Homo sapiens: one gene and its partners. The protein of the gene in region 1 purifies or fractionates together with the protein of each later gene. This does not show direct contact. Each region holds a gene or a part of one and is shown in the gene's direction. Other genes may lie near its edges. The genes, in order: MATN3, TF, PBLD and GDA.

What was found.
Region 2: the proteins of MATN3 (region 1) and TF purify together in Homo sapiens (affinity purification with mass spectrometry; 3 studies listed by BioGRID and IntAct, with this or other methods). This does not show direct contact.
Region 3: the proteins of MATN3 (region 1) and PBLD purify together in Homo sapiens (affinity purification with mass spectrometry; 3 studies listed by BioGRID and IntAct, with this or other methods). This does not show direct contact.
Region 4: the proteins of MATN3 (region 1) and GDA purify together in Homo sapiens (affinity purification with mass spectrometry; 2 studies listed by BioGRID and IntAct, with this or other methods). This does not show direct contact.

Annotation. Positions count from the first base shown.
Region 1 is NC_000002.12:20,002,298-20,010,168, reverse strand, and holds part of MATN3 (matrilin-3 precursor), read left to right. Parts: intron 1-3,858; coding exon 3,859-4,425; intron 4,426-5,362; exon of another isoform or gene 5,363-6,149; intron 6,150-6,882; coding exon 6,883-7,008; intron 7,009-7,871. UniProt on the Homo sapiens protein: Major component of the extracellular matrix of cartilage and may play a role in the formation of extracellular filamentous networks.
Region 2 is NC_000003.12:133,769,882-133,777,752, forward strand, and holds part of TF (serotransferrin isoform 1 precursor), read left to right. Parts: intron 1-626; coding exon 627-691; intron 692-5,551; coding exon 5,552-5,736; intron 5,737-7,167; coding exon 7,168-7,357; intron 7,358-7,871. UniProt on the Homo sapiens protein: Transferrins are iron binding transport proteins which can bind two Fe(3+) ions in association with the binding of an anion, usually bicarbonate.
Region 3 is NC_000010.11:68,287,929-68,294,928, reverse strand, and holds part of PBLD (phenazine biosynthesis-like domain-containing protein), read left to right. Parts: intron 1-2,690; coding exon 2,691-2,800; intron 2,801-2,889; coding exon 2,890-2,919; intron 2,920-5,851; coding exon of another isoform or gene 5,852-5,909; coding exon 5,910-5,998; intron 5,999-6,267; coding exon 6,268-6,446; intron 6,447-7,000.
Region 4 is NC_000009.12:72,222,092-72,229,962, forward strand, and holds part of GDA (guanine deaminase), read left to right. Parts: intron 1-1,028; coding exon 1,029-1,136; intron 1,137-3,585; coding exon 3,586-3,693; intron 3,694-5,851; coding exon 5,852-5,949; intron 5,950-7,871. UniProt on the Homo sapiens protein: Catalyzes the hydrolytic deamination of guanine, producing xanthine and ammonia.

The DNA of each region.
Region 1 (7,871 bases):
GGAAAGATTTTCAACATAATTCTTCTTCCTAGCTCTAGATCTATGGGACTTTCCAGGAATGAAGTAAAATTCTGGAGGTTTTTTTTTTTTTTTTTTTTTTTAGTATTTGAAGAGATTTATTCTGAGACAAACATGAGTGACCATGGTCTGTGACACAGCCCTCAAGAGGTCCTGAGTACATGTGCTCAAGATGGTCAGGGTGCAGCTTGTTTTTATACAATTTAAGGAGGTATGAGACATCAATCAAATACATTTAAGAAATACATTGGTTTGGTCCTAAAAGGTGGGACAACTCAAAGCCGGTGGTGGTGAGGGGCTTCCAGGCTATAGGTAAGTTTAAATATTTTCTGGTTGATAATTGGTTGCATTTGCCTAAAGACCTGGGATCCATAGAAAGGAAATGTTCAGGTTAAGATAAAAGACTGTAAAGACCAATGTTCTTTTGAAGTCTTATAGTGGCTACCCTTAGAGACAATAGATGACAAATGTTTCCTATTCAGATCTTTTTAAAAAATTATTATTATTTTACTTTAAGTTCTGGGATACATGTGCAGAATGTGCAGGTTTGTTACATAGGGATACATGTGCGCTGGTGGTTTGCTGCACCCATCAACCCATCATCTAGGTTTTAAGCCCCACATAGATTAGGTATTTGTCCTAATGCTCTCCCTCCTCTTGCCCCCCACCCCCTGACAGGCGCTGGTGTGTGATGTTCCCCTCCCTATGTCCATGAGTTCTCATTGTTCAACTCCCACTTATGAGTGAGAACATGTGGTGTCTGGTTTTCTGTTCCTGTGTCAGTTTGCTGAGAATGACGGCTTCCAGCTTCATCCATGTCCCTGCAAAGGACATGGACTCATTCTTTTTTATGGCTGCTGGAGTTGTTTTTTTTTTTTTTAAAGAAAGAAAGAATTTTGATTCCTTTTTTTTTTTTTTGGCTTTTAGAGACTGGGTCTCATTCTATCATCCAGGCTGGAGTGCAGTGGTGTGATTGTGGCTCACTGCAGCCTTGACTCTCTAGCTTTAAGCGATCCTCCTGCCTCAGCCCCCTAAGCAGCTGGGACTACAGGTGCCTGCCACCATGCCTGGCTAATTTTTAAACTTTTTATAGAGATGAGGTCTCCCTATGTTGCCCAGGCTGGTCTAGAACTCCGGAGCTCAAGTGATCCTTCTCCCTCAGCCTCTCGAAGTGTTGGGATTACAGGCGTGAGCCACTGCGCCTGGGTTTAATTCCTTTTGACTTAACTAAATGCATGACATACAGCATATTTCAGGGCGGTGACTTAAAGTCAACAAGCAGGATGTTTACTGAATACATGAGAGAATGTTGATTTTTGTGGAGGAAAATGTTGCCTCAGAGAGAGGTAACTGGGATTCAGTAGCAAGCTCCCAGGGACTGGGAGTCAGGAAACCTGGAGTCCAATCCATGCTCTACCACTTTCTAGTTCTCACACCTCCTTGAACCTCAGGTTTCTCACCTGTAAAATGAATATAAAAACCACCTCTGCACCTCCAGCCTCACAGGTTGATGTGTTGGTACCTTGCGATTCCTAAAGTGTTACTGAAAGGAAGATTTTCTTTTTGTTAATTAAATACCTCCAAGCAGCAGGCTAAAAACAAGAAGATAATTTTCTGCTTTTAAAAGAAAACTAGACAGAGACATAAGGTAGGCTGTTCCAGGTAAGGCTTTAATTTTTTTCTATAAACTGCTTAGTCTAGGCATTAATTTTGAATCACCTTTTTTTCCTACTAAGTATTACCTTCCTAGAGTAGCATCAACTTCTGCCTCCTTATTAGGAAAGGAAAGAGCCTTGAGTGACACTTCATGCCCCAGGACCTCATTTCCATTTAGGGCTGCATGCGTGTGTTGGGTGAGAAGGGGGAATGACTTGAAAAAGAAGTTTAGGGCTGGGCACAGTGGCTCACACCTATAATCCCAGCACTCTGGGAGGCCAAGGTGGGAGGATCACCTGAGGTTGGGAGTTTGAGCCCAGCCTGGCCAACATAGTGAAACCCCGTCTCTATGAAAAATACAAAAATTAGCTGGGTGTGGTGGCGCACACCTGTAGTCCCAGCTACTCAGGAGGCTGAGGCAGGAGAACTGCTTGAACCCAGGAGGTGGTGGTTGCAGTGAGCCAAGATTGCACCACCGCACTCCAGCCTGGGTGACAGAATGAGACTCCGTCTCAAAAAAAAGAAAAAGAAGTTTAATAATTGGCTTTTTTTCTTGTCTCATCCTGACTTGTGGATTTGATTTTTGTATCGAGGAGAGAGGGTGTGCAAACAGGGGTTGGGGGAAACAGGAAAGAACAGGAAAGAATAGATGAACACTAAAATGTACTGTGATACTAAACTGTTAGGTACTTTTGTGTAGAAAAGAGATAAATTCTTTGAAGGTGGGAAATCTGGCTATCTGGTTTATATGCTTTTGTAGCTCCAGGGCTTCATACATGTAGGCCCTCAAAAAATGTTTTTGGTGAATGAATAAGTCAAAAGAGAGATGACCAAGAGAGTTAGTTGGGGCAGTAGGGTAGATACCAGATCACAATCCCTGCTTCTTACGAGACATGCTCATGAAGCTGGAAGCTCACTAAACAGATACAAGATTAAGTTGGCATCCCTCATTCTACTTTTTTTTTGAGATGATGTCTTGCTCTTATTGCCCAGGCTGGAGTGCAATGGCAGGATCTCAGCTCACTGCAACCTCCACCTCCCGGGTTTAAGCGATTCTCCTGCCTCAGCCTCCCGAGTAGCTGGGATTACAGGCACATGCCACTACGACCCGCTAATTTTTGTATTTTTAGTAGAGACAGGGTTTCACCAAGTTGGCCAGGCTGGTCTCAAACTCCTGACCTCAGGTGATCCTCCCGCCTCGGCCTCCCACAGTGTTGGGATTACCAGGCGTGAGCCACCGCGCCCGGGCCCCTCTTTCTACTTACTTTTTTTTTTGTTTTGTTTTTTGAGACGGAGTCTCGCTCTGTTGCCCAGGCTGGAGTGCAGTGGCGTAATCTCAGCTCACTGCAAGCTCTGTCTCCCAGGTTCACGCCATTCTCCTGCCTCAGTCTCCCGAGTAGCTGGGAATACAGGCACCCACTACCACGCCCGGCTAATTTTTTGTATTTTTAGTAGAGACGGGGTTTCACCGTGATGGTCTTGATCTCCTGACCTCTTGATTTGCCCGCCTTGGCCTCCCAAAGTGCTGGGATTACAGGCATGAGCCACCACGCCTGGCTCTACTTTAAATTAGTTCAGGGCTCCAGTGAGCCCCCAAATTCACTAAACAGGAAAGATGGCCAGATGGAGGGAGAATTCAGGGATACTCTGGAGCAGTTTTCAGCCCCTTGGAAGTGGAGTAAAAGAGGGGGGCCACCAGAAGAGCCCCTGAGTGCCTTGCCTCAGACTACCATTGCCTGAGGCTTGGGCACAGTGGTTGGCAGTGAGGCTGTCCCTGAGGGCCCAAGGCCTTTTACATGGTTCAGGGACACATTGTCCAATTGCTCCAGATAGCCAAGGTACTTAAGAAATGTGTAGAATCTATTAATTCCCAGGAATCATGAGGGCCCTTGGGAGCAAAAGCTTAAGCAGAGGGATGAGGTTCTAAGTGAAATTTCAGGATTCAGCCAGCCTGCAGGTGAGGTATTTGGGGAAACTTCACACCTCCAGGTGAATTCTCACTAGGGAATTCTGAAGTCCTTGGTGCTTTCAACACCCCGATGGTCTTGGGGAAGGTCGCAGGCAGTGGTGATGTTGGGGTCAGGAGATGCTGCCTTGCCTGGCCTCCTGGAATCCCAGAGTTCTCTGGAAGTGAGGATTACTGCATTTCTAATTGTGGTCTGATCATTGCTTGGTCTTTTGCAGGTGTTTGCAAGAGCAGACCCTTGGACCTGGTGTTTATCATTGATAGTTCTCGTAGCGTACGGCCCCTGGAATTCACCAAAGTGAAAACTTTTGTCTCCCGGATAATCGACACTCTGGACATTGGGCCAGCCGACACGCGGGTGGCAGTGGTGAACTATGCTAGCACTGTGAAGATCGAGTTCCAACTCCAGGCCTACACAGATAAGCAGTCCCTGAAGCAGGCCGTGGGTCGAATCACACCCTTGTCAACAGGCACCATGTCAGGCCTAGCCATCCAGACAGCAATGGACGAAGCCTTCACAGTGGAGGCAGGGGCTCGAGAGCCCTCTTCTAACATCCCTAAGGTGGCCATCATTGTTACAGATGGGAGGCCCCAGGACCAGGTGAATGAGGTGGCGGCTCGGGCCCAAGCATCTGGTATTGAGCTCTATGCTGTGGGCGTGGACCGGGCAGACATGGCGTCCCTCAAGATGATGGCCAGTGAGCCCCTAGAGGAGCATGTTTTCTACGTGGAGACCTATGGGGTCATTGAGAAACTTTCCTCTAGATTCCAGGAAACCTTCTGTGGTAAGTTGGTCAGTCTTTGCTTCCAACTAGAAAGGATGTTATATTCAGACATTGTGTACCCAGAGAAAAGAGTATTATTCTTTTTTGGTGGAAATTTAATGAAAAACTTAAATATATCCAATGCGTGTGTGTGTGTGCACGTGTGCATGCGCGCGTGTGTGCGACCAACCTAAACACACTCTATTGGTTTAGGAATATAGAGCTGCATTATATGGAACTTGGTTTGCTCATAAAATCTTCATGTTTGCGTTAGAACTGTGAAGGTCTGCAAATATCCAGGATAAATGACCCTGCTGTTCCCTGTCAGGGTCAGGAAAAACAAAACTCAAGATGCCTCTCCTGTCCCCTCTGCCCCACCACTACATTTTTTTCCCCTGATACATATTTTTTTAGTTTTACCATCTCTAGATCTAACAGAACTCTGTTTGTTCTCCTGCAGAAGACAGGGAGAAGCGTCTGTCCTTGGGAGAGTCAGCAGGCCTCTATTCCAATGTCACCGTCAGCCCGAGTGTGCATTTAGTGAATGCTCTGGTTTTCAGACTGGGCTGTTTATCTGATTACTCTTTGTTGAAGAACAGGATTCAGGGACCAGGCAGATTAGGGTTTCAGCTCACTTGAAAGAAAGCAAGATGATCTTAAGAAATCATTCTGTTAACTCTGCTACTCCTTCCATCCTTTAGGATGGAATTTGAATAAGGACATGCTAATTTTATTGGAATTTTTAGCATGAATTGACCAAATCTAGGACTACAGATCCATTCAATGCTGGAGTTTAATTTTAGTCACTGATCAGAATTATGATCTGTGGGACTCATGCTTTATTTTTTTATCATCTGGAGATAATCTTTTGTTCCCTCTATGTGAATATCCAAGCAGTTGTGGACAAATTTCTAGTTCAGGTGAATTTTTAAACATAGATATCTTTTTGCAATATAATTTATTTCACACTTATTTATTCAGCATGCATTTATTGATCTCTGATGATACAAAGATAAAGGTAATCCCTCCATACCATTAAGTAACATTCTGGGGGTGGGGGTGAGACAAACAAATGAACCAATAATTAATTACAATTATACATTTCAAGGAGACTTTTAATCTAGGTTAATGTGAAACGCAGCCATCAATGGTTTGTCAGGAAAAGGGAGATGAAGTCTTGCTCTGGGGCAACGTTTGGCCTCATTGCAGTCAGACTTGGCTGGGATCCCCTTGTCTTTCCTGTCCCAGGACACTGGGCTTTCACAAGCCATCACTGGCTTTGGTGGCATCTACTTGGCATTCGTTGGCTTCCAAAAAGAAAGTGGCTTTCTTTCTCCCAGGAAATCACCCTCCCACTCCATGCTTGTGGGTGAGAGCCTCTCCATCAACATGCTGGTCTGTGGCAAAGTTGGGTTTCAAAGCTAGCACCTGGGGTTGGGCTTCGAAGGCTATAAAGTAACAAGTGGTGAGTGGCAATCTTTTCCTTCTGGTACAAAAGACCTGCTTGTTCTGGGGGAAAAACGTCCTCTCTATGGAAAAAAGACTGAGCGGCAGCTTGTTGTAGTCAACGGGTTGGAAAGATCATTCCATGAAAAGGCCCTTCTTGGGAAAATATTAGCCTTGTCCTGTTGCCAAGGGCAGTGGAGGTTGGGTTACCTGCCACAGGAGGGCCAGCCTCCTTCAACAGGCCTCCTTGGTTTCTCAGAAATGACTTAATTCATTGATTCATCTTTCAAAAGAGGTCACTAGGAAAAAAATATCCAATGAGATATAAATGGCTCCAGGAGCAATAAGATGGAGATGTAGTTTAGCTAATGTAATCTCATTTATTTTGTTCTTTTCTTTTTACCTGTTTGTATTAGCATATGAGTTCACTATGGATTTAGCGTATGGATGACTTCACCCACCTTACATATTCAGAAGACAGTTACCCGAACTGTCCTCTACCATTTGCATGTTCAAATATGTACCACTGCCCACCTGTGAGTTCGTTCTAGGCTTAGACCCAGACTTGTGTGAGAATTCTGTTTAGACATAGGCTATAGAACCTTGGAAATCAGATTCTGGCTACAATGGGACAACTAGCTCACGTCACTTCAGGCTGTGCATTTATTGTTCTCCCATTTCTTGTGGTGGGGAAGCACAAATCTTTTTTTCATGGGGAGGCGGATAAGCCAAATAAAACATCCAATTGCCTGGCCTATGTAAGTGTTTGGCTTCAGCTCCAAACTCCAAATTCCCTTTCTCCCTTGAGAAAGTCTATATAGCAAGATGTGTACTTTTAAATTAGCAACAATTTCTAGTTTAAGAGTAGCATTGCTAATAAGCCAGAGGCAGAAAACAAATAACCATTTTTTTATAGTGAAGTAAAGATGGACTCGGAAAGGAGCCCAGAGAGCAATGTCTATTGACATGGGAGACGGTATCTGAGATGTTTCCTAAGTGTCAGTGCTGACTGTTGTAAACTTCCTCTCACAGCGCTGGACCCCTGTGTGCTTGGAACACACCAGTGCCAGCACGTCTGCATCAGTGATGGGGAAGGCAAGCACCACTGTGAGTGTAGCCAAGGATACACCTTGAATGCCGACAAGAAAACGTGTTCAGGTGAGGCCTGTGTAGGGGGCCGTGACTGAATCAAATACTTGGGAACCTATGCTCCAGGTTTTGGACTGGCCTTGTGCTTTGACTCTCTGACCCCTTTTTACCTAACTGCCTTTTGGCTGGTTTACTGGTGTTCATCAGCAGTTTTCCCTGAAAAGGAGCTTAGGGAGAAAAGTGAAATGATAGATAAATCAGCTTATTTCCATACTTTGTAAGTTTTAAATAAAATCGTAGGAGAAAAGGCTACTAAGAAAGAGGTCCAGGCTGAGTGCAGTAGCTCATGCCTATAATTCCCACATTTTGGGAGGCTGAGATGGTAGGATAGTTTGAGGCTAATTCGAGATTAGCCTCGAGAACATGGTGAGACCCCATCTCTACAAAAAATAATTTAAAAAAAAAAGCCAGGTGTGGTGGTGCATGCCTGTAGTCCCAGTTACTTGGGAGGCCGAGATGGGAGGATTGTTTGAGACCAGGAGGTCGAGGCTGCAGTGAGCTATGATAATGCCTCTGCTGCACTGCCACAGAGGGAGACCTTCTTTCAGAAAACAGAACCCACACACACAAAAAGGAAAAGAAACGGGTCCAAGATTCTTAGCCCTTTTGAGGATTTGAAAATTTTCCTGGATTTTATTTCATTACATGCAAGCTACCCTCTTCCTCTCTAGTCATAGATGCTCATGGAATCTAGAAGTAGCAAAGAAGTTAGAGGGGTACTCACTGGTCTGGTACATAGATACATACATGGAGTCAATGAGGAATGGGAATTATATATTTTTTTGTTTTGTTTTTAATCCTAGAAAAAAGTTTTTGGGAGGAAGAAAGCTTAGAGATAACTTAATTTTATAGATAATGAAATTGAGATGGAC
Region 2 (7,871 bases), on another chromosome or scaffold:
CTGAAACTTCTTGGGGACTTGTAGCTCAGAGCTGTGTTACAACCCCCATTACCACACCCAGAGATATGTGGCCTGGGAGTTAGTAGAGTCAGGTGCCTTTATGCCATGTTTTGCCATATTCTCTGCATTTCTCAAAAACAAAAACAAAAAAACCCACAACATAGCAAATGCTCCATAAATGTTAAAATTCTTTTTCAAAGGAATGAAGGACAGCACAAATTGCAATTTGTGATGGAGTTTCAGTCTCTCACAAATGTTGCCTAGACATTCGCCTTGTATGAGAACCTGAAGGAACTGAGTTTTTCATTCATATGCTGGGGGAGGCATCACCTCACTGAAAATCAATTCCCTACTATCCTTGTTGATGTCAGGGAAATTATGTCATCTCTCAGAGAAACAGTACAAAAAATTAAGATTTAGTATGTGGAACTGAGATTGTAAAACTACAATCAATTCAGAGTGTTTTGTTTTTGTTCTCTTTATTCCTTACATTGCTTACTGTTAGAATGGAAGTTACAGTTGCTGTTTTCAGATGGCTGTCCTGAATCTATAAGGTAGCCCCCTGAATGACAGATAAGTCACTCTGACCGCCTTTTTTTTTCTCTCCCACTTCTGGACCTCTGCAGGTGTCTGGTTGAGAAGGGAGATGTGGCCTTTGTGAAACACCAGACTGTCCCACAGAACACTGGGGGTAAGTGCACCTGCTCCTCTGTCCCCCTAGATCACTAGATCCTGGTCACTGGTATTCACTTGTATTCAGGGATGCCTTTGTGGAAGTATTATGTACACTGTCAGACTTCAAAGCTCTGATTCTCAGTCTGTCTGCTCAGTGAAGAGAGACATGTTCACCTGAGTGCGCAGAATGATCAGGATTATGGGGCCCCCAATGGCCCTAAATCCTCCCCAACACACACTCCCACAGCTGCAAGCCTTGTGCTCCTTTCCCCTAAATACTTCAGTGCCTATTTCCTAAGAATAAGACAATCTCTTGCATACCCACAGTATGATTACCAAGATCAGGATCTTTTACATTATGTGGATTTAATACTCGTCACGTCCACAGTCCACATTTAACTGTTGTCAGTTATCCCAGTAATGCCTTTTATAGCTATTTACTGTACTTCTGGGTTGTGTCCATTGAGAAGGCCTAGAGGCAATGGCATACCAGCAGGAGTAAGCACCAAGATATTGGCTTGTAAGTACTCTTCTTTACTAAAAGGAACCAGAACTCCTTGGAAAAATAGCTGACTTCAGGGCTGGGGCAGGAAAAATAGATGCTGAGCCTAGAACAACACACTGAAGTGCTCAAACAGTGATGGGACACTCAAAGCATACAAGAACCAATTTGAAGGATCTCCTGTTGCCAAGTCTGGGAATTTTGAGCATTAAAATAAATAATGATAGCAGTAAGGGATAATAGCCCATTGAAAGAAATAAGAATGCATGAGGCAATACTGATTAAACAAATGAAGAAGGGAAAACTAATCAATGTGGAAGGAATGATAGAGTTAGAAAACTATCACTTGGCAACCAATATATTGATAACTGATTCAAGCAAGAATCAATGGGTGTTAAGCCGGGCGCAGTGGCTCACGCCTGTAATCCCAGAACTTTGGGAGGCCGAGGCGGGTGGATCATGAGGTCAGGAGATCGAGACCATCCTGGCCAACAAGGTGAAACCCCGTCTCTACTAAAAATACAAAAAATTAGCCGGGCGCGGTGGTGGGCGCCTGTAGTCCCAGCTACTCGGGAGGCTGAGGCAGGAGAATGGCGTGAACCTGGGAAGCGGAGCTTGCAGTGAGCCGAGATTGCGCCACTGCAGTCCGCAGTCCGGCCTGGGCGACAGAGCGAGACTCCGTCTCAAAAAAAAAAAAAAAAAAAAAAAGAATCAATGGGTGTTAACTTGTGGGTGAACGTTGGACAGCCATAATATTAATAAAAACAAACAAAACAAAGCAAAACAAACATTGGCCAGACTGAGCACTCCACACCTGACCCCTCAGTATCACTAAGTGCTAGCAGAGCCCACTGGAATTCAAGCTGTGAATACTTCCCTGCCTTCTCTCATGTTCATTCCCCAACTCCTCACTTTTCCTGGGCAACTCATCCAGAATGAACCGGCTCAGCACCAGCCCCTCCAGGAAGCCTTCCCAGATGGCATACCCTGTCCTACAAGAAGACTCCTCTGTTCATATTGCCATTATGATTGAATTCACCACACTCTGTAATACACTTTGGCTACAGAAACTCTTTGAGCTCTTTTTCTTCATCTTATATTCCCAGAACCTAGTGTAGCACATAGTACACAGCAGTTGCTAAGAATTTGTTTGCAGAAATATTGGGTTGACTAATTTTCCTTTCTTCCCTCGTATTATTGCTTTTTCCTTTAAGAGAGTGTTACCCTAAGCTTGGCTCTTTGCCACCCTTGATTTCTTTTGGTACTTTTCTGAGTAGAGCTCCCTTCTTTAAGCTTTGACTCTCTTACTCTTTGCAATGACTCAAAAATTCTTCCCTCCTGCATAGAATTAAGATAGGAGGCCTGACATCCAATCTCAATTCCATTCCAGTCTATTTCCCAAGGTGTCACTTTTATGTAGAGAGTACATTGGCATTGCAATTGTATTTTTTTACGTGTGTATATGGATGTCCTCATATATTGTAGTTGTATATATACAATCCATATACAACTCAACTGTCCTCATCTTTCTGTCAACGTTCCCTCCTCTTCTCCCAGCCTCTATCCTTATAGAGAATCCTGCTATACTCCCTGCCCATCAGGCCTAGATTAAGTCTGTCAGTCAATATCTTATTTCTTCAAAACGTGTCTTTTTTCAAACTAAATTTTGAAATAATTGTGTGTATTTAAGGTAGACAACATGATTTTTAAGAGCCAAAGTAATTTTGATGTATTGTAAGTTTGGGAACTACTGGTCTAATACCCCTGACTTAATATCACATTCCTGATAAATATTACTAAATGTAAGTCACATCATGTCTGATTCATCATACTTATATTTTGCACCTTCTTACCTTCTTCTGTTATTAATTTGTTGCTTTTTCAACTTATATTTTAGATTGAGGGTACATATGCAGGTTTGTTACATGGTATACTGCATGATGCTGAGGTTTGCGGTATGATTGAACCTGTCACCCAGGTAGTGAGCATAGCACACAACAGGTAGCTTTTCAACTCTTGCCCCCCTCTCTCCCTCCTCCAAAATCTGTCTTAAGTGCTATGGTATATACAAGAAGGAAGACACAAAACCACGTGGGCTTTTTTTTTTTCTTTTTTTTCTTTTTGAGATGGAGTCTCACTTTGTTGCTAGGCTGGAGTGCAGTGATGTGATCTCAGCTCACTGCAAACTCCGCCTCCCAGATTTAAGTGATTCTCCTGCCTCAGCCTCCCAAGTAGCTGGGACTACAGGCGTGCACCACCACGACCAGCTAATTTTTGTATTTTTAGTAGAGACGGGGTTTCACCATGTTGGCCAGGATGGTCTCCATCTCTTGGCCTCATGATCCGCCCACCTCGGCCTCTCAAAAGTGCTGGGATTACAGGTGTGACCCACCGCGCTCAGCCCACATGGGCTCTTTTATCACAATTTGTGTGTGTGTGTGTGTGTGTGTGTGTGTGTATGTGCATATTATAGGTGTGTGTAGGAAAAAGAATGTTAGAAATGTACCAATTTTGAAGGCGTAGACTATGAAATTACAAATGCTTCAAAATTTTCTTCCCAATACTTACGTGGCATTTTATAAATTTCCACCAATAAACGTGTATTATTTTTATTGAAAAAGCATATTTTTAACATGCCCTTCTAGATGCCCTCCTAGCCAGACTGAATCACCTCCCATTTGATTTTTCTTAATTTTCTACCTTTAGGTTCTGGCTCATTCATTAACATCAATTTCCATTCATAAGTCCTCACAAACCCACTTTTCCTCTTGCCTGAGTGCCTCACATACCCTACTGCCTGAGATGGTTCCAGAGGCGGTCTCCTCTCTCCCTTAGAAACACCAGGCACACACCTGCCCCCAGTCTCGCCTGCACTCTCCTTTCCTCCCGCAGAGAGGCATTCCTTTCTCCTCCTCTCATCCTACACACACTATAAGAGACAACTGAAATCTTGCCTCCTCCAGCCAGCTTCTTAATTCATTTGTTCTCAAAGCCCTGGTTTGAGCTCACACAGCATCTAGAGTGTTTTACAAAATATAAAATATTATTATCCCTGCCCTGAATTTTTTGTTTTGGTATGTGTGTTATTTTCCCCTCCAATAAGATTGTGCCTTGGAGAGGGCTGAGAACATAGTATCATAGATAAATGAATAAAATAACATAAAATAAAATAAAAATACATATACCCTTTGAACTAACTATTCCACTTCTATGTAAGCACAATTATATGCCAGTAACACTCATTTTAACGCTACTTTAGTGGCAAAAAATTGTAAACACCTCAGATGCCTATTAAAAGAGGAATGGTTTAAAGATACTATTATAGCCACACTATGAAATATAATACAGTAGTTAAGAAGAACGAGCTTGATTTGTATGTACTGACAAGAAGAATCTATAAGGTATGTAAACAGTTGAAAAAAAAGCTACAGAGTTTTACATTTGTCAAGATCTAACACTAAACAAAATTAGAAACATGTGAAATCCATATACACACGTAGAAAAATACATATAATGAGCCGTGGATGGAAACTCGCAAATGTGATATTAAAGACTAGCACTATAAGACTGAGTGAGATTTGGAGAGTATAGGAAAGGAGGCTTTTAGTTAATATAGAGAGATATTCAAAAATTTATGAGTGTGATCTCATGTATTAGTTATTCGGTTAAAGAAACAAAATTAAATGAAAAATACATTTTTAAAAAGGTTGCAATTCTGAATTATGGGAGAGAAATAAAAATTAGCAAAACATATTTGCAAAGTGGCTCAGGAGGAAGGAGCTGAAACCCTAAGAATGGGTGAGTTTTTTTTTTTTTTCAGAGACAATACAGAAAAGAAGAGGCAAAGGGGCCGAGATGGGATACAGACCTGTATCACACAGGTGTGTGCACATTCTCATTTAGAACTGGAACAAGGGAGTCAGATTTAAAATTCTGGTGCAGATTCCAAAGGTGTTCTCTGAGGAAAAGTTCTTTTGTTTGGAGATGCCATGTGTTACAGCACAGAAATTGATCAACCTGGCTTAGAGCGTCACATTCTTCCTCTGTTGGAGCAAGAGGTACAGAAGGAATTGGAATTTAGTGGAATTGAAGATCTTTTTGAACAGCATCTGCAGAATGTAGTTCATTCTCACCTGGCTGGGTAGGGAAGGTTGGAAGGGGATGGTCAATAATCATTCCTGGTCACTGTGAGTCTGGCATCACCTTGTAGACCACATGGGTGTCTCTTCCTGTCCACATCACTGTAACCCCAGTGTGGGCACTTCTGCTGGCGAGAAGGCCCAGGTTCTCTACACACCACTGAGTCAGTTCCATCTCCCCAGCGGGGCACCTTGACCAAAGCCATCAGCTGAACCACCTTCTTCCTGTCCCTAGGAAAAAACCCTGATCCATGGGCTAAGAATCTGAATGAAAAAGACTATGAGTTGCTGTGCCTTGATGGTACCAGGAAACCTGTGGAGGAGTATGCGAACTGCCACCTGGCCAGAGCCCCGAATCACGCTGTGGTCACACGGAAAGATAAGGAAGCTTGCGTCCACAAGATATTACGTCAACAGCAGGTATGGACCAGCCAGGTCCTCCCACCTTTTCTTCCTAGATGGCCATAGGCTATTCGGGGGGAGTTTACAACAAAGTGCAGCCATGACTCCAGCACTTTCTTTTTGAAAACTAGAATTCCATGCATTGTGCATTTCATGCCATGCATTGTGGACTAGAGTATCAGGGTTCAAATCACAGCTCCACAGCTTCCTAGTTGTGCCATCTTGGGTATGTTACATAACCTCTCTATGCCTCAGCTTCCTCATATATAAAATTGTAATAATAATATTTTTACCTACTTCTCAGTTAACATGAGTATTAAGTGAAGACATGCACCCAAACGGCATAGGAAAATTCCATTTCCTATAGGACGTGCTCAAAATATGTTAGCTGTGTAATTATGGAACTAGACCTCTCAGGCCCAGCTCTGCTTCTAGCTCCTGGTCACTGGTGATTAGATCTGATCCATGTACTCTTGGGACTAGGAATCTGCCTTTCTGCTCCCCCTAACCTTGTTCAGGGGTACCCTCATTTCCCCTACTCCTGTCCTTCCCGAAAATGAAGAAGACAGCTCCTGTTTCCCAGCGCTTGTTGATACGAGTCATGAAGAGTGGATTTCTGTTCCTCTTGCCTAGGCAGACTGAGCACTGTTCTCAACAGTCTGAAAAACACAGGACCCTTGCCCTCGGAGAGCCTGCCCTCTGGGGGAACAACCACTCAGGGCCAGCCTTGTTGAAGACAGGGGCTGCCTGAGTATTCTAATCCTAAAGGCCCCTCCACACACACACATCACCTTCCTTTTGGGCATAGCTGCCTGCTGTTGATTCACCATTACCTTTTTTTAAAAAAAATAAGAGTATATTTGAAGTCCTTTTAAGGTACATGACAATAATAAGCATTTAACATACATTTCCTAGCTGCTATATGGAAAGTTCAACATTTTGCAGTCATCATTTCACTTACAACCTTTGGAGATCTGGAGAAGCTGAGTGGCTTGCCCAAGAAAGGATTCAAAATGCAGTCAAACATGAACTTTTAAGAACTACCTCTGCCACTCCTCTGGGAGGGTTCACATTTAACATCTTCTTTGACAATAACATCTGAAGGGACATGTTATTGTCCTCTCATTTCCTATAAGCAGCCCCCAGTGAAGGGCAATGAAGTGGGGAAGAGAGGTCAGAGTAGGCAGGCATGGGTGTGGGTGGGAGGGACTTATCAGAGGAAGGTGGGACCAGGGACCCTATAGATGATTTTGGGGGCATCATGAAAGCATGCAGCTGGGGCCCTAAGTGGATAAATGGCAGATAAAGGAGGTGGAAAATTCCCAAGACATACTCCGTAGCTTCCCTTTTTCCCCAGGGCTGGTTCAGAGCTTTCAGACTCTTCTCATCCATGTGTTCCCAGCTGCTAAAGACCACAAGGTCCTCACGGACTTTCTGTTCACTTGACAGCACCTATTTGGAAGCAACGTAACTGACTGCTCGGGCAACTTTTGTTTGTTCCGGTCGGAAACCAAGGACCTTCTGTTCAGAGATGACACAGTATGTTTGGCCAAACTTCATGACAGAAACACATATGAAAAATACTTAGGAGAAGAATATGTCAAGGCTGTTGGTAACCTGAGAAAATGCTCCACCTCATGTGAGTAGGAGGAACAGCATGGGGAAGTGGCAACCAAACATGGTGGTGAGTGCTGGGATGGTGGGTGGGTACAGGAGGGGTAGGCTGTGGCCCTTGGGATAGGACAACATGGACAAAATGAAATGGTGAGTGAACAATCTAAGCCCGGCATGTATGACAGGCTAGACTGTAGGGGCAGATAGTAAGGGGATACAGGCTCAGAGCACTAAGGTAGTGAACTTATTGGGTATAGAGAATTCCATCTTATTTCTAAGAAAAGGACTGGGTTTATGTGTACATGCCATTGCTCTGCAGTAAACTTTTGATTAGAGTTGCCTTGTCCAATATGGTAGCCACCAGCAAGATGTGACTATTTAAATTTAAGTTAATTAAAATTAAACTAAATAAAAGATGTATTTCTTCAATCCCACCTAGCTGCATTTCAAGTGCTCAACAGCCACATGTGGCTCCATATTGGTCAGCAAAGAGAATGTTTGCATCATCACAGAAAGCTCTTTCAGACAGTGCTGCTCTA
Region 3 (7,000 bases), on another chromosome or scaffold:
GGGCAAAACCCCGTCTCTACTAAAAATACAAAAATTAGCTGAGCATGGTGGCGGGCGCCGGTAGTCCCAGCTACTCAGGAGGCTAAGGCAGGAGAATCGCTTGAACCTGGGAGGCCGTGGTTGCAGTGAGCCGAGATTGTGCCATTGCACTCCAGCCTGGGCGACAGAGCGAGACTCCACCTCGAGGAAAAGAAGAAAAAGAAAGTAGGATTGAATAGAGGGAGAAATTGAACTGCAGAGTAGTAGCAACAAGGAAAGGCCTAGGCCAAATCCGTGGGGAGCTCTAAAGCTGGACATTTTTTCAAGTAGTATAGTTCCAAGTAGAGGCAAAGATTCAGGCCTTTTTACCCTCCATGGACCAGTTCCCAAAGCCTGGAAAAGATGTATGACTTTGGGCAAGGTAGCTCTACTCAGCCAAAGGTAACTCCAAGAGAGTGACTCAGTTGAGAGCTGTTGGCCACTAGCACTCTGGGCAAGCAGGGTCAGGGCCAGGTGTAGGCAGAGCCAGCAAGGCCCCAGGTTGCAGCTGAGAGCAGGTGTCTCCTTACATTTTGTACCCTATGGTACTTCCTTGCCTCATGGAGTCCCAGTCCTGAGGCCATGGGTCAGACATAGAATATGGATCAGCACCCACCAGAGAAGGGGAACTTTGGGCGAAAGGATAAGATGAAGCATCTGTGGGATGAGCTAGAGCGAGAGGAGGAGCATCCCAGGCAGAGGCTAACAAGTGCAAAGTCCCTGGGGCCTGTCTATATGATTGGCAGGAGATAAAGTTGAGAAGCCATATAATGTAATTCAATATACATTTTAAAAAGATGATTTTGGTATCTGTGGATAGGGGACATGTGCAAAAGGCAAGCAAACATTCCGAAATGTTTAGGAATTGAGTCTTGAAAAATAGGGTTTACTGAAATTAAATTGAGTGTCTTTTGTTTTTTTGTTTTTGTTTTTTTGAGATGGAGTTTTGCTCTTGTCACCCAGGCTGGAGTGCAATGGCAAGATCTTGGCTCACTGCAACCTCTGCCTCCTGTGTTTAAGTGATTTTCCTGCCTCAGCCTCCCAAGTAGCTGGGATTACAGGTGCCTGCCACCACGCCTGGCTAATTTTTGTATTTTTAGTAGAGATGGGGTTTTACCATGTTGGCCAAGCTGGTCTCAAACTCCTGACTTCGGGTGAACCACCCGCCTCGGCCTCCCAAAGCAAGATTGAGTGTCTTTTGAAAACTGGACTCCACGTGGGTTGGTTTGATGCTGAGGTTTGGAATAATAACATCCTGGAAACCCCCATAGGGCAGTCTTCAGGTTAGATAAGATAAGGTATGAAAAAATGCTTTGTAAATAATGTCTTATGCAAATCGTAATGAGAAAAATTAAGCTTTGTGTTTCTGAATGTCAATTTTATGCTCAATAAAAGTTAACAAGCCAAAGTTCTTCACCTTTGACATGTGGTTTAAGTTTTACAGAAATATTAAGGGAGAGAAAAGAATTGGGTCAGCATTCTTTGTTTTCACTAAAAATGTTATACACACTGATAAGTAGCCCAAGTTGTATCAGTAACATGGGATGCCAACATTTGTGGTGCATTCTTTAAATTACATTGTTATGTAAAAAGTTTGGTTCATTTAGGATAAACCAAATTTATTTCATATAACACTGATATTTACAACTTAAATGTTTTGTTATTCCCTTGGCGTATCTTAGACTAGAAGAGGTTATGACTCTATGGTTGTTGCTGCTGGATATTTTAAAATCTGTATTAGAAACATTACAGGCTGGGTGCAGTGGTTCATGCCTGTAATCCCAACACTTTGGGAGCCAAGGCGGGAGGATTGCTTCAGTCTAGAACTTAGAGACCAGCCTGAGCAACATAGTGAGACCCTGTCTTTACAAAATATTTAAAAATTATCCAGGCATTATGGCTCATGCCTGTAGTCCCAGCTACTGGGGAGGCTGAGGTGGGAGGATTGCTTGAGCTCAGGAGGTCAAGGCTGCAGTGAGCCAGTCCCCAGCCTGGTCAACAGAGTGAGACAGTTCCTCAAAGAAAGAGAAAACATTATAAATGGTAGGTTTAATGTATTAACCTCATTTTATAGATGAGGAAACTGAGATTTAAGGAGGCTGGCCAGGTGTGGTGGCTCACGCCTGTAATCCCAGCATTTTGGGAGGCCGAGGTGGGTGTATCACTTGAGGTCAGGAGTTTGAGACCAGCCTGACCAACATGATAAAACCTCGTCTCTACTAAAAATACAAAAATTAGCTGGATGTGATGGTGCACACCTGTAATTCCAGCTTCTTGGGAGGCTGAGGTGGGAGAATCACTTGAATGTGGGAGGCAGAGGGTACAGTGAGCTGAGATCGTGCCACTGCACTCCAGCCTGGGCAACACAGTGAGACCATGTCTCAAGAAAAAAAAAAAAGGAGGCTAAGTTAGTAAGGGCACAGTAAGCAGTAAAGAGCTGGGATCTGAAGCCTTGAAGTATGACGCCACATCTGATCAGTTATGTTCTTGGTTCTCAAGTTAGAATCTAGTGAGAGTTTTCTCCATTCTAGACCTCAGCAACCCAAACCTCGCTCCATCATAGAAAAGGATGACAGTGCCAGAAAATCTAAGACAATGCAAAGGTGTTTGAAATGGACATGCGCATATATGACAAAGTTTATTTCCTATTTCTTGATTCCTATTTTGGCCAGAAAACATGAATAGCACGCTCACGTTTGTCACTCTGAGTGGAGAACTAAGGGCCAGACGAGCAGAGGATGGCATCGTCCTGGACTTGCCTCTTTATCCAGCCCACCCCCAGGTCAGCTCTTTGTAATTATTGCCCTAAGCCATCTACAACCGACAGCTCTCCTGTTTTATAATAATTTTGTTTTTTTTCCCCCCATCTAGGACTTCCATGAAGTAGAGGACTTGATAAAGGTTGGTAAAAAGAATCAAACCTGAGCCTAGTTATTTGTTATTGTTTGCACACAAAGATTTGGTATCATTTGATCCACAAAGATAGGCATTTTACCAATATAAATGTTACAGTGTTTCAGGTTTGAATTTTAATATTCAGTCTATTTGGTGAGAAGGTTGACCAGTTTTCCTTGGCTCCTGATTGTCACTGCTGGCCCCCATGGTAGGATGGAGGGAAGAGACACTGTTATATGACAGGCTGAAAGGCACAAAAGAACCAATGGAGGTGGTAAAGAAGAGGGAGAATAGGATGTCTTAAGGAAATGTAAGTTTCTGGGAGGAGACCAGCCTTTAGGGAAATTAAGGGATGTTGAATTTCTGTGCTTCTCTAGCTAGAAGGAGAGGAATGGGCCCCGAGCATGGCTGTGCAAGTTCAGGTGTGAAAGTTGGGAATTTCTGGCAGAAAGAGGTCATTCCATAAAATCCATACACACAAGATGGAGGGAAAAAATGGAACCTTCCTGGCAGCTGTCAGTGTCCCCAGTTTCTGTAGTAAAGGATGGGACTGAGGTGGGGGAGGGCTGTGCTTTGATAGAGGAAACCAAGAAAGCATGAGTACCTTGCAGATAAGACAAGATACAGAACATGGGCTCCTCATGGGGTCTGTGTGGGCATGGGGCTTAATAATATTAATGATGATGAAACATTTTGAGAGTCTCTCTGTGTGCAGTGCCACATGCTGAGCATTTCACTTGCATTGTCCATTTAATTCTCAATGTTTCTCAGTAAGGTAGGCACTGCAGTTGTCCCATGAAGGTTCTGCAGGGCCAGAGCAGCCCTGGATGACCAGGGGCTTGGTGTGTAGAGAAGAGAGGGCCCAGGTCAGGACCAGGGCAAGGGCTGTCATGAGAAAAATGATTCTGTAGCTTAGTCTATTGTGAGTACTACTTGGGTATTTCTCAGTGAATTTTTAACTACAGCATTTGTAGTCTCTAGTATTTGGCTTTATCTGTGTTTTCAAAGAATATAAACAAATAAGCATGATGGATTCTGATTTTATACTCAACCCCATCCATGGCTTGGGTTTTGGAGACAAGCCAAATTTAAAAACAAACTGCTTTAAACATACTGGTAAGAAAGTGGAAAAAACTTATAATGGTAGACCTTGTTCATGGTAGAAAGAACTCAACTTAGTCTCAGGGTCAGCATTTATTAAATGGGATAACAAAGGGTTGTAAGTATTGCCATTTTGTGTTCTTCCCTAGAAACTGGCAGTAAGATTCCCAGCCAAGAATTAAACCTTTTTTTTTATTTGAGACGGAGTTTGCTCTTGTTGCCCAGGTTGGAGTGCAATGGTGTGATCTTGGCTCACCACAACCTTCACCTCCTGGGTTCTAGCAATTCTCCTGCCTCAGCCTCGCAAGTAGCTGAGATTACAGGCATGCGCCACCATGCCTGGCTAATTTTGTATTTTTAGTGGAGACGGGGTGTCTCCATGTTGGTCAGGCTGGTCTCGAACTCCTGAGCTCAGGTGATCCGCCTGCCTCGGCCTCCCAAAGAGCTGGGATTACAGGTGTGAGCCACCGCGCCCACCCCTGAACTTTTAAATCAATGTACAAACTCATGCAGATAAGGGCTGGGTTCGAGAGACTAAGGCTCTGGAGAACAGATGGGATCCGGCTGTAGGAGTTCCCATTTCTTGAGGAAGTTACATTGGTCAGCCCATAGTCACAGAGGCAGAAAGCCCAAGTACCACCCAAGGCAGAAGGAATTCTGGATGTGGGAACTGGAGTATCTTGGCCTCTAACAAGGATTAGAGAACCTGAAGCCACCTAGTGACTGCCATACAATTACCATGTAATTACCATCTGCTGGGCCTGGCAGCTGGGGCTGGTGCCAAAGGATGACTTGGTGGTGTGGGAAGGGGTTGTCTCCTCATAATCCCCCTCTGCCCCAAGCCACCCTCAAACAAACATACAAACAAATGATGTTCCTGGATTTCAGCAAGATTATGTGCAGTCAGGTAGAGTGAACCAGGGTATCTTGAGAACATGTTATGTTATTGATCTGTCACATACAATCTGAGTGAAAGTGGTGTGCTTGCCAAGCAGAGCAGCACAGGACGAGCCCTCTAGTCCCTCCTTCCAATCAAGCTGCTAGCCCTGAGTGCTTGCCGTGTGGAACGTTCTAATTGCTGCTGCAGATACTCCACATATACGATTTTATTTAATCCTCACAGCTCTAAGAGGTGGACATGAGGCCCCTCCATCTCTAAAGATGATGGACAGTAGGGATTTAGAGCTTTTTCTCTGACCTTCTCAGACCTGGGTCAAGATATGTGTGTGTGTGTGTGTGTGTGTGTGTGTGATCTTTGGCCTTTCTAAGTCTCTTTCTCCTTCTCTGTGGGGAGAATACCTACTTGAAGGAGTTGTGCATTGAGGCACATAGTAGGCACTTGTGAGAATGCCTATGTTTTTTTTCTTTTTTGAGACAGAGTCTCATTCTGTCTCTCAGGCTGGAGTGCAGTGGTGCGATCTCGGCCAAGTGATTCTTGGCTCACAAGTGATTCTTGGTTCACCAGGTTCAAGTGATTCTCTTGCCTCAGCCTCCCGAGTAGCTGAGATTACAGGAGTGCACCACCATGCCCGACTAATTTTTGTATTTTAGTAGAGATGGGGTTTTGCCATGCTGGCCAGCCTGGTCTCGAGCTCCTGACCTCAGGTGATCCACCTACCTCAGCCTCCCAAAGTGCTGGGATTACAGGTGTGAGCCACTGCACCTGGCCACAATGCCTGTTTTGAGGCTCACAGAGGCCTCTTTGGTAGCCAGGAGACTGACCATCCTTGGGCAACACCTTAAGCTCTGAAACTGCACTAACACTCTTGGGGACTGGAGACGATGGGCATGCTTGGCTCACAGTGGATGCTCAATGAGAGGTCATTTCCCATTTCAGGGGATCAAGGACTTGGCCCAGGGCATGTCCCTGAGGAGTTTTTGGTCTGTCTCCACAGACTGCCATAGGCAACACACTGGTCCAGGACATCTGTTATTCTCCAGATACCCAAAAGCTCCTCGTCCGCCTCAGTGACGTTTACAACAGGTAAGATTTTTGGCTGCATCAGCACTTTGGGGAGGGCTGAGTACCCAGATTTATAGCTCTTCCTTAGTCTGGCTGTGCTGTGTCCAGTCAAACCATGATTTACGCAGCCAGAGTGTTTCTTTCCCTGATAGGAAGACATTCCCACTTGTTCTTCCTTCCCCTCCTGTTAAGCTCTTTGAGCAAGCTGCACCCTGGCCTGCTTCACAGAGTCTGTGTGGTGAGTGGGCTGTGAAATGGGTTTGTCCTAATCCATCTTGTTTATGAACAAGGTCGTTTCTGGAGAACCTGAAAGTGAACACGGAGAATCTGCTGCAAGTTGAAAACACAGGGAAGGTGAAAGGGCTTATTCTTACCCTTAAAGGAGAGCCTGGTGGGCAGACCCAAGCATTTGACTTTTACTCAAGATATTTTGCACCGTGGGTTGGTGTGGCTGAAGACCCAGTGACAGGTACTTTTTACTTGAGCCCAGGGGAGGGTTAAACAATGGAAGAGGAGGATCACAAATAGTTATTTAAGTGCACTTCCTGTGACCTTTCAGGTGGCTTGAGTTTTGAGCTGCCTTGTTCCTCTATCTTTCCCCATCCCTGCCATCCCTTCACTGAAGTCTTCCATGAAAAACATAAAATAGAGCAGGTGGATAACAGGGTTAAACCTGAGTGTCAGACAGCCTGGGTTTACATTCCTAGCTTCCTAGCTTTTGACCTTGGGCAAGTGACTTGACTTTTAAAAGTCTCAGTTCCCTCCTCTATAAATTGTATATAATACCTCATAGGGCTATAAAAGCACAATGCATGTTAAGGGCTTAATACAGTGCCTGGCACCTAGTAAGTGCCCAATAACTACTAGCTATTATATTGTATTATTATATCTTTTTGAGACATAGTCTCACTTCATCACCCAGGCTAGAACGGAGTGGCATGATCCCGGCTCACTGCAACCTCAGCCTCCCAGGTTCAAGTGATTCTCCTGCCTTGGCCTCCCCAGTAGCTGGAACTACAGGCG
Region 4 (7,871 bases), on another chromosome or scaffold:
GTCAAATGGTATTTCTGTCTCTAGGTATTTGCAGAATCACCACATTGTCTTTCACAATGGTTGAAGTAATTTACACTCTTACCAACAGTCTATAAGCATTTCTTTTTCTCCACAACCTCACCAGTATCTGCTATTTTTCTGACTTTTTAATAATATCCATTCTGACTGGTATGAGATGGTATCTTATTACAGTTTTGATTTGTATTTCTCTAATGATCAGTGATGTTGAGCTTTTTTTTCATGTGATTGTTGGCTGCATCAATCATATGTAAAACAGTGAAAAGTGTCTGTTCATGTGCTTTGCCCACTTTTTAATTGGGTTGTTTTTTTCTTATAAATTTGTCTAAGTTCCTTATAGATGCTGGATATTAGACTTTTGTCAGATGCATAGTTTGCAGAAACTTTCTCCCATTCTGTTGGTTGTCTGTTTACTCTGTTGGTGGTTTCACTTGCTGTGCAGAAGCTCTTTAGTTTAATTACATCCCATTTATCAATTTTTACTTTTGTTGCAATTGCTTCTGGTGTCTTTGTCATGAAATCTTTTCCCATGCCTATGTCCTGAATGGTATTGCCTAGGTTGTCTTCCAAGGTTGTTTTTTTGTTGTTGTTTGGTTGGTTTTTTGTTTTTTTTTGAGACTGAGTTTCTCTTTTGTTGTCTAGACTGGAGTGCAATGGTGAGATCTCGGCTCACCACAACCTCCGCCTCCTAGGTTCAAGCAGTTCCCTTGCCTCAGCCTCCCGAGTAGCTGGGATTACAGGCATGCGCCACCACGCCCAGCTAATTTTGTATTTTTTAGCAGAGACAGGGTTTCTCCATGTTGGTCAGGCTGGTCTCGAACTCCCGGCCCTCAGGTGATCCACCTGCCTTGGCCTCTCAAAGTGCTGGGATTACAGGTGTGAGCCACCACACCTGGCCCTTCCAGGGTTTTTATAGTTTTCGGTTTTACATTTATGTCTTTAATCCATCTTGAGTTAATTTTTGTATATGATGTAAGGAAGAGGTATCAATTGTTTTTAATTATCTCCAGTATTCTAGAGTGAAGCCCATAGTGACACCACGTTTTTCCCTCTCCTGCTCTGAGACTTTGATGGGTGAACTGGGCAACATTGCTAAAACCCGTGATTTGCACATTCAGGTGGGTATTCTTCTTCTCTTTATGCCTCTATGCAGACCTGCAAGATTTCTCAGCACCCTTAAATCATCATTTCCAATAATCTGTAGTTGTTTTACTGAGTAATCTGTTTCTTCAACTGAGATATCCTAGAGTCACAGCATAACAGGAGAGAAAGGACCCCTGTAGATATCACCTAATCCAATTCTTTCATTTTGCAGATAAGAAACCTGAAGTTCCTTATACCCTCAATGTTTTCTGATCAGTCTTCTAAAGACAAGAAAATCGTTTTAAGTAGTGGCAAGATCAATAACAGACTGTGATCTGTTCTCTGTAGGATACATTTAATGCATTTATTTCCTACTTCTCTTTCACTTGATACTTTCTCAGTGTGTTCTGTACCTTCATTCTTAGAGAAACCAGCTATTATTTGAAAAGCAAAAAGAGCCTAATTTCCACCTTACAAAATAGCATTTAAAATCCCTTTTGTTCTGAGTTTCTTAATTTAAAATCAGAACAAAAAAGTATACCTTGCTTTGTCATTAAATTGTTGCAATTTAGGAATAAAACACTTTTTTAAAGCTTATATCTGGGTTAAAATTGAGAGTTCCCCTTCTCCCATCCAAGCTTAATTACATACTGTACTAAAATTTCTCCTCTTAGGAGTTGACGGTCTTATAAGAAAGGTCAGATCAGGGCAGAGACAACACATTGATTCTTTACCATTTGTAAATCAGTGTTTTTTTGGTTTTTGTTTCCCAAATCTATTTTCTTAGGAACCATTAACCGCTCTCACCTTCCCTATTATTGTTATTATTATTTGCAGCCTATAATTTTTGAATTTTTAATTCAGTCCCACACATTTCTCTGCTGGAGATAAAATTCAAAACTTACCTGATGTTTCTGCTTTGCAAACAAAATGCTTCTGTCGCCGACAAAATAAAATACACATGAACATTTAAAAATACATGAAAAATAAGATGAGAAGAACACACAACAAAATCAAGTTTATCCTTGCTAGAGAGATGCATGTGGATGTATGCACATTTACTCACATTTATCCAAATGACTCGAATCATCAGATTGTCCTTTCTTCTGTTGCTGTCCATGCATTTCATCGGTGGTCTGGGACTTCCTCAAGGCCAGGGATGGAGTTCATTGTCTGAGTAAAACACGTGTTTTCAGAACATTGCTATTTTTTTCTTTTAAAAATTTAGCTACGCATATTCTAAATGGCATTGCCATTCTTGGAAGTATTAATTATGCCCTCTTAGATTTTGTGGTGCCCTAGAGAAAGGTCTTAGGGGCCTTTTTCAGTGTGGGGGCATAGGACTTATTGTTTTGCTTGCATGTGGATTCTTATGGGCTGTTTCTTGATGACCGTGGAATTTTCTAGCTCAGCTATTTTCAAACTCTTTTTTGGAGAACTCATTCTGGAAACTAACAAAGGGCACAGAATGGAGACAGGGTCCCAGAGTCTCAATCCTGCTGCATCCGGAGGGGCAGTGCTTTTATGCCTTCTATATATTGGGTTTCTGTGAATTTTTATATGAATAATATATTCAGTGCCGAGAGAATTTGGAAAATCACTCATCTAGCCCAACCCTTTTTTTTTTTTTTTTTTGAAAGATGGGAAAATTGCTGTCCAAAGAAAAGAATGACTTTCTCTAGGACACATAGCTGTCAGAACTTGGGCCAAACCCAGCTCTCTTTACTCAAATTCCAGTGTTCATATAAGTGAACCCCACTGTCTGCTTTTTTATGAACACTGAGCTCTTTTCTTAAACGGCCAGTATGGCCAGTCACGGTGGCTCACGCCTGTAATCCCAGCACTTTGAGAGGCTGAGCCCGGCAGATTACTTGAGGTCAGGAGTTTGAGACCAGCCTGGCCAACATGGTGAAACCCCATCTCTACTAAATATACAAAATTAGCCAGGCATGGTGACACATGCCTGTAATCCCAGCTACTCAGGAGGCTAAGACAGGAGACTCACTTGAACCTGGGAGGCAGAGGTTGCAGTGAGTGGAGATTGTGCCACTACACTCCAGCCTGGGCGACAGAGCCAGACCCTATCTCAAAACAAAAGAAAGGCCAGCACCAGAAGAGGCAGGTTGCTAGGGTCCTGACTATCTTCAAGGAGGACTTCATATTTGTTCCAGCTGGAGGTCAGAATTTGAAAAGACTTTGTTGGAAAAATTTGTCTTGATATTATACATACACATACACACCCACACCCACATCCACACACACACACTACATGTTCATAATATTCAGTTTCTTTGTCATATACATTATATTATCTATGATGAATATAATTGTTTCTAACAAAATGCATGTGTAATCTTCATTGCCTTTCTATGTGGTCCCTTAAATAGGCAAGTAGAAAACCATTCACACCATTTTGAGGTAGGAAGTGTAATTTCTAATGGTATTTTACAGAAGAAAAATGAAAATATTATTTTTTTCTTGTAGAGCCATATAAGTGAAAATCGTGATGAAGTTGAAGCTGTGAAAAACTTATACCCCAGTTATAAAAACTACACATCTGTGTATGATAAAAACAATCTTTTGACAAATAAGGTAAGTTTTATATCATGACATAATCTGTTTAAAGGAGGGCATATTTATCTCAATTTTAAAATCTCAATAGTAATCTTCAGATTTCTGATATGAATACATTTCTTTAAAAATTTTTTTTAAAGTTTTAATTTTTGTGGGTACACAGAAAGTTTATATATCTATGGGGTACATGTGTATACATTTCTTAAATTAGAGTAAAGCCTAGTGTGTGTGTGTGTGTGTGTGTGTGTGCGTGTGTGTGTGTGTGTGTAGTTAAAAATGGACCCGAAGTTTCATCTTAGTGAATTAAATGTAAAGGCTTCATTGAAGATGGGAATGTCATTTGGTCCAAGGACATTTTAACAGTATCTATTAGAATGTAAACCTACATTTCTTTGAGTCAGCAGATGCATTTCTAAGAATTCACTCTAAGTAATATGAATAGGGATGCTAATTTTATATTAAAGTTTAAAAATTGTTATCGGTGAGGGATTAAATTACAGAGCATACATAGGATTTTATCCAGCATTCACAAAGAAAGAGGTATGCAGGCTTACAAGGAAGAATGTTTGTGTAATATTATTTGATGTGTATGTACATATGTATAGATGCATGCTTACTTAGAAAAAAACTGTCTGAAAGACACAACTTGAGTATTAAAAATGACTCTTCCTGAGGGACAAACCAGAAGGACTTTCTGCTTTTTATTTTTAAATACTCTGAGAGTGCTTTTAAAAAATGAGTATGCATTACTCCTATAATTAAAATTAATATGTGTGAAGAGACCTCATTACAATAATGTACTACTTGGCCTTGGCCTTCAATGAAATGTACAAACCGCATGGAGAGTTTACCATAGCAAATAATTTCTTAGTGACTGTGTGAATGGAGATATGAATATAACTGATTTAAAAGGTTAATACTTTGCATAAATCATGTAAAAGCTACACCATAGTTTTCATTCTTTATATATTTTCCATATGATTAATAAATTAACCTTCCATTTGCATGTTAATTTTATTTGAACAGAGATTGGGAAAGTTATATTTTAATAATAATTCTGTAGTCACTGGGCCGGGCCTGGTGGCTCATGTCTGTAATCCCAGCACTTTGGGAGGCAGAGGCAGGCAGATCACGAGGTCAGGAGATCGAGACCATCCTGGCTAACACGGTGAAACCCCGTCTCTACTAAAAATACAAAAAAATTAGCCAGGCGTGGTGGCAGGCGCCTGTAGTCCCAGCTACTCGGGAAGCTGAGATAGGAGAATGGCGTGAACCCAGGAGGCGGAGCTTGCAGAGAGTCGAGATTGCGCCACTGCACTCCAGCCTGGGCGACAGAGTGAGACTCTGTCTCAGAAAAATAATAATTCTGTAGTCACTGAACCGTGCCTCTCAAAGGGGAAAGCAAGTTGGGTACAGGTTTTGTACTGAGAGAAAAATAATTTTGAAAGAGTAAAGTCTTATTTAAGAAAATCTACAAATAAATACTACCAACATTAAAAATTTAGAGAGGTCTCATGTGTGTGCAGTGCCTGCTTTCTTGGATCAATTTTACTTTCTGAATTAATGATTATAAGATGTTAAATTTCCTAGTTTTTATGAAAATATAAACGTAGGTGAGTTAAAAGTTTATTTAGTTGAAAATATCAAGGCCATTGGCACTTACATTGAAGCTAGGAGCAGAAATAAAGAACAGCGCTTTGCAGGATTACTCTCACAGCTTTCACATACTGAGAAGGGACTTTTAGTTCTAGAAAGTTTTTTTAGAATTGGAGCAAGCACAACACTACCAGTTGCTTCCCATATAAACTTAGAAAAGAAAGTAACTTGACAGTCTTCTAAAGTAGAGATGAGAAAATCATGTTATCTTCCATCTGGATGGATATTCTGTGCTGTAGATCACCTGGACCAAACCCTCATTACTTTATAGATCAACAAAAAGAATCTAAGTAAACTCCACAAATTTCCTGAGACTTTCGTAAGACAATGTGTTTACAGGCCTTTTCTAAGGTATAACTTGTACCTAGCAACTTTGTACATATAGATCATCATAAATGTTCTTGTGAAGATGCTAACAGCCAAGCTACAGCTTCGGTCTCTCTCTAAAATACCTTGTGAGTGAGTACCCACTTAATCATTTGTGAGCGGTAAACTCCACGTAGGGCACTCTTCTCTCCAGACAGTGATGGCACACGGCTGCTACCTCTCTGCAGAAGAACTGAACGTATTCCATGAACGAGGAGCATCCATCGCACACTGTCCCAATTCTAATTTATCGTAAGTAGACAATGATTGTTTGGTAGATTACGAATGATTGGGTTGCAGATTAGCAGCCAAATGCCTTTGTTTCCTCTGTCATTCCTCCAGGATCTCCCCTCTATTCTGTGTTTGGCAGGACCCAGATAGATAGACATTTACTCGTGCTGTTGAGGAGTAAAAGAGAACACGTAAGAGGACATTTATCTCAGAGGACACGTGAAGAGCACAGCATCTTCTGAAATCTCTGAGTTTGTACAAAAAAAGGACAATAGGGAATACAACATAAAAAATTTACAGTGAAAGTACTGAAAGAACCCATATGTCAGCCAGGAAATCCAGAAGAGGGTAGTCACTCCCATTACTGTTTGTGCTGTAGTGTGAGAAGGAAACACAGCAATACCAAAGCAAATGCACTATGATGTATGTTACCCTGTTGGACCTGACGGAATGCCAGCCCACACAGGCAAGCCCAGGAGGACCTTGTCCTATTATAATTCCCCAGAATACAGAGGTGTTATTTATTAACTGGTTCTTAACCTTTTGAAAGGTGATGGATCCGTAAATGAATAAAATGAAAGTTATTGCCTGGGCGCAGTGGCTCACATCTGTAATCCTAGCACTTTGGGAAGCAGAGGCAGGCAGATCACTTGAGGTCAGGAGTTCAAGACCACCCTGACCAACATGGTGAAACCCCATCAGTATTAAACATATAAAAATTAGCTGGGCATGGTGGCAGGCACCTGTAATCCCAACCACTCAGGAGGCTGAGGCAAGAGAATCGTTTGAACCCGGGAGGCGGAGGTTGCAGTGAGCCAAGATTGCACCACTGCACTCCAGCCTGGGTGACAGAGTGAGACTCTGTCTCAGAAAAATAAATAAGTTATAGCCTGTAATTTCAGGGGAAAAAAGCCCATGGATATTACAAGTGTTGCATCTAATTTCAGGGAATTCATAGATCTCATGATGCCAGTCCATGGATGCTAGGTTAAAAACCCATGCTTGTGGCTGTAATCTCAGAAAACAACTTCAGGGGTCGGGCGTGGTGGCTCACACCTCTAATCCCAGCACTTTGGGAGGCCAAGGTGGGCGGATCACGAGGTCAGGAGATCGAGACCATCCCGGCTAACACGGTGAAACCCAGTCTCTACTAAAAAAAAAAAAAAAAAAAAAAAAAAAATATTAGCCGGGCATGGTGGCGGGCGCCTGTAGTCCCAGCTACTCGTGAGGCTGAGGCAGGAGAATGGCATGAACCCGAGAGGCGGAGCTTGCAGTGAGCCGAGATCGCGCCACTGCACTCCAACCTGGGCGACAGAGCAAGACTCCATCTCAAAAACAAAACAAAACAAACAAACAAACAAACAAAACCTTCAGGGAAGTAAAACAGGGAAGGGAAAGAAGTCAGTGAAGATCGTATCATCACGGAAGTTACCACTGTGGGCTCCCGGAGTTTAATCCTTCTATTTAATAGAAAACTCAGGTAACCAGTGTCCAAAACAGAACTCAAAGTTATCCTGCCCAAGAAGTGAGGGAGCTGGCTGTGACAGTAATACCCAAATGCTTATGGGTTGTTGTTGAGGGCTCCTGGGCAGAGTGGAGAAGAGTATTAATTCCCTGGAACTTCTGGCCGTCCCCAAACAAGGGCAGAGCAGGCTCTAGCACAGGAGAGAGCTGAGAAAGCTCCTAGGCAAAGAGCTGGAGGCATTCACAGTTGGAAATCTAGGGACTTTGCAAATTACAAAGATATATGTCAGTGTCATTATGGGAAGGGTGCTGAGAGCCACAGTGACATATTTCTGGAGTGCTTTAGGGACCCCAGAGGTTCTGAGTTTTCAGACTTAAAGGAGTGACACAGGGAATCTTGTCTATGTACAGCTTAGTGACTATAATTAGGGTCTAGTTACTTGATAGTGGAAGGATTTAACACCCATTGGGTGTTAATA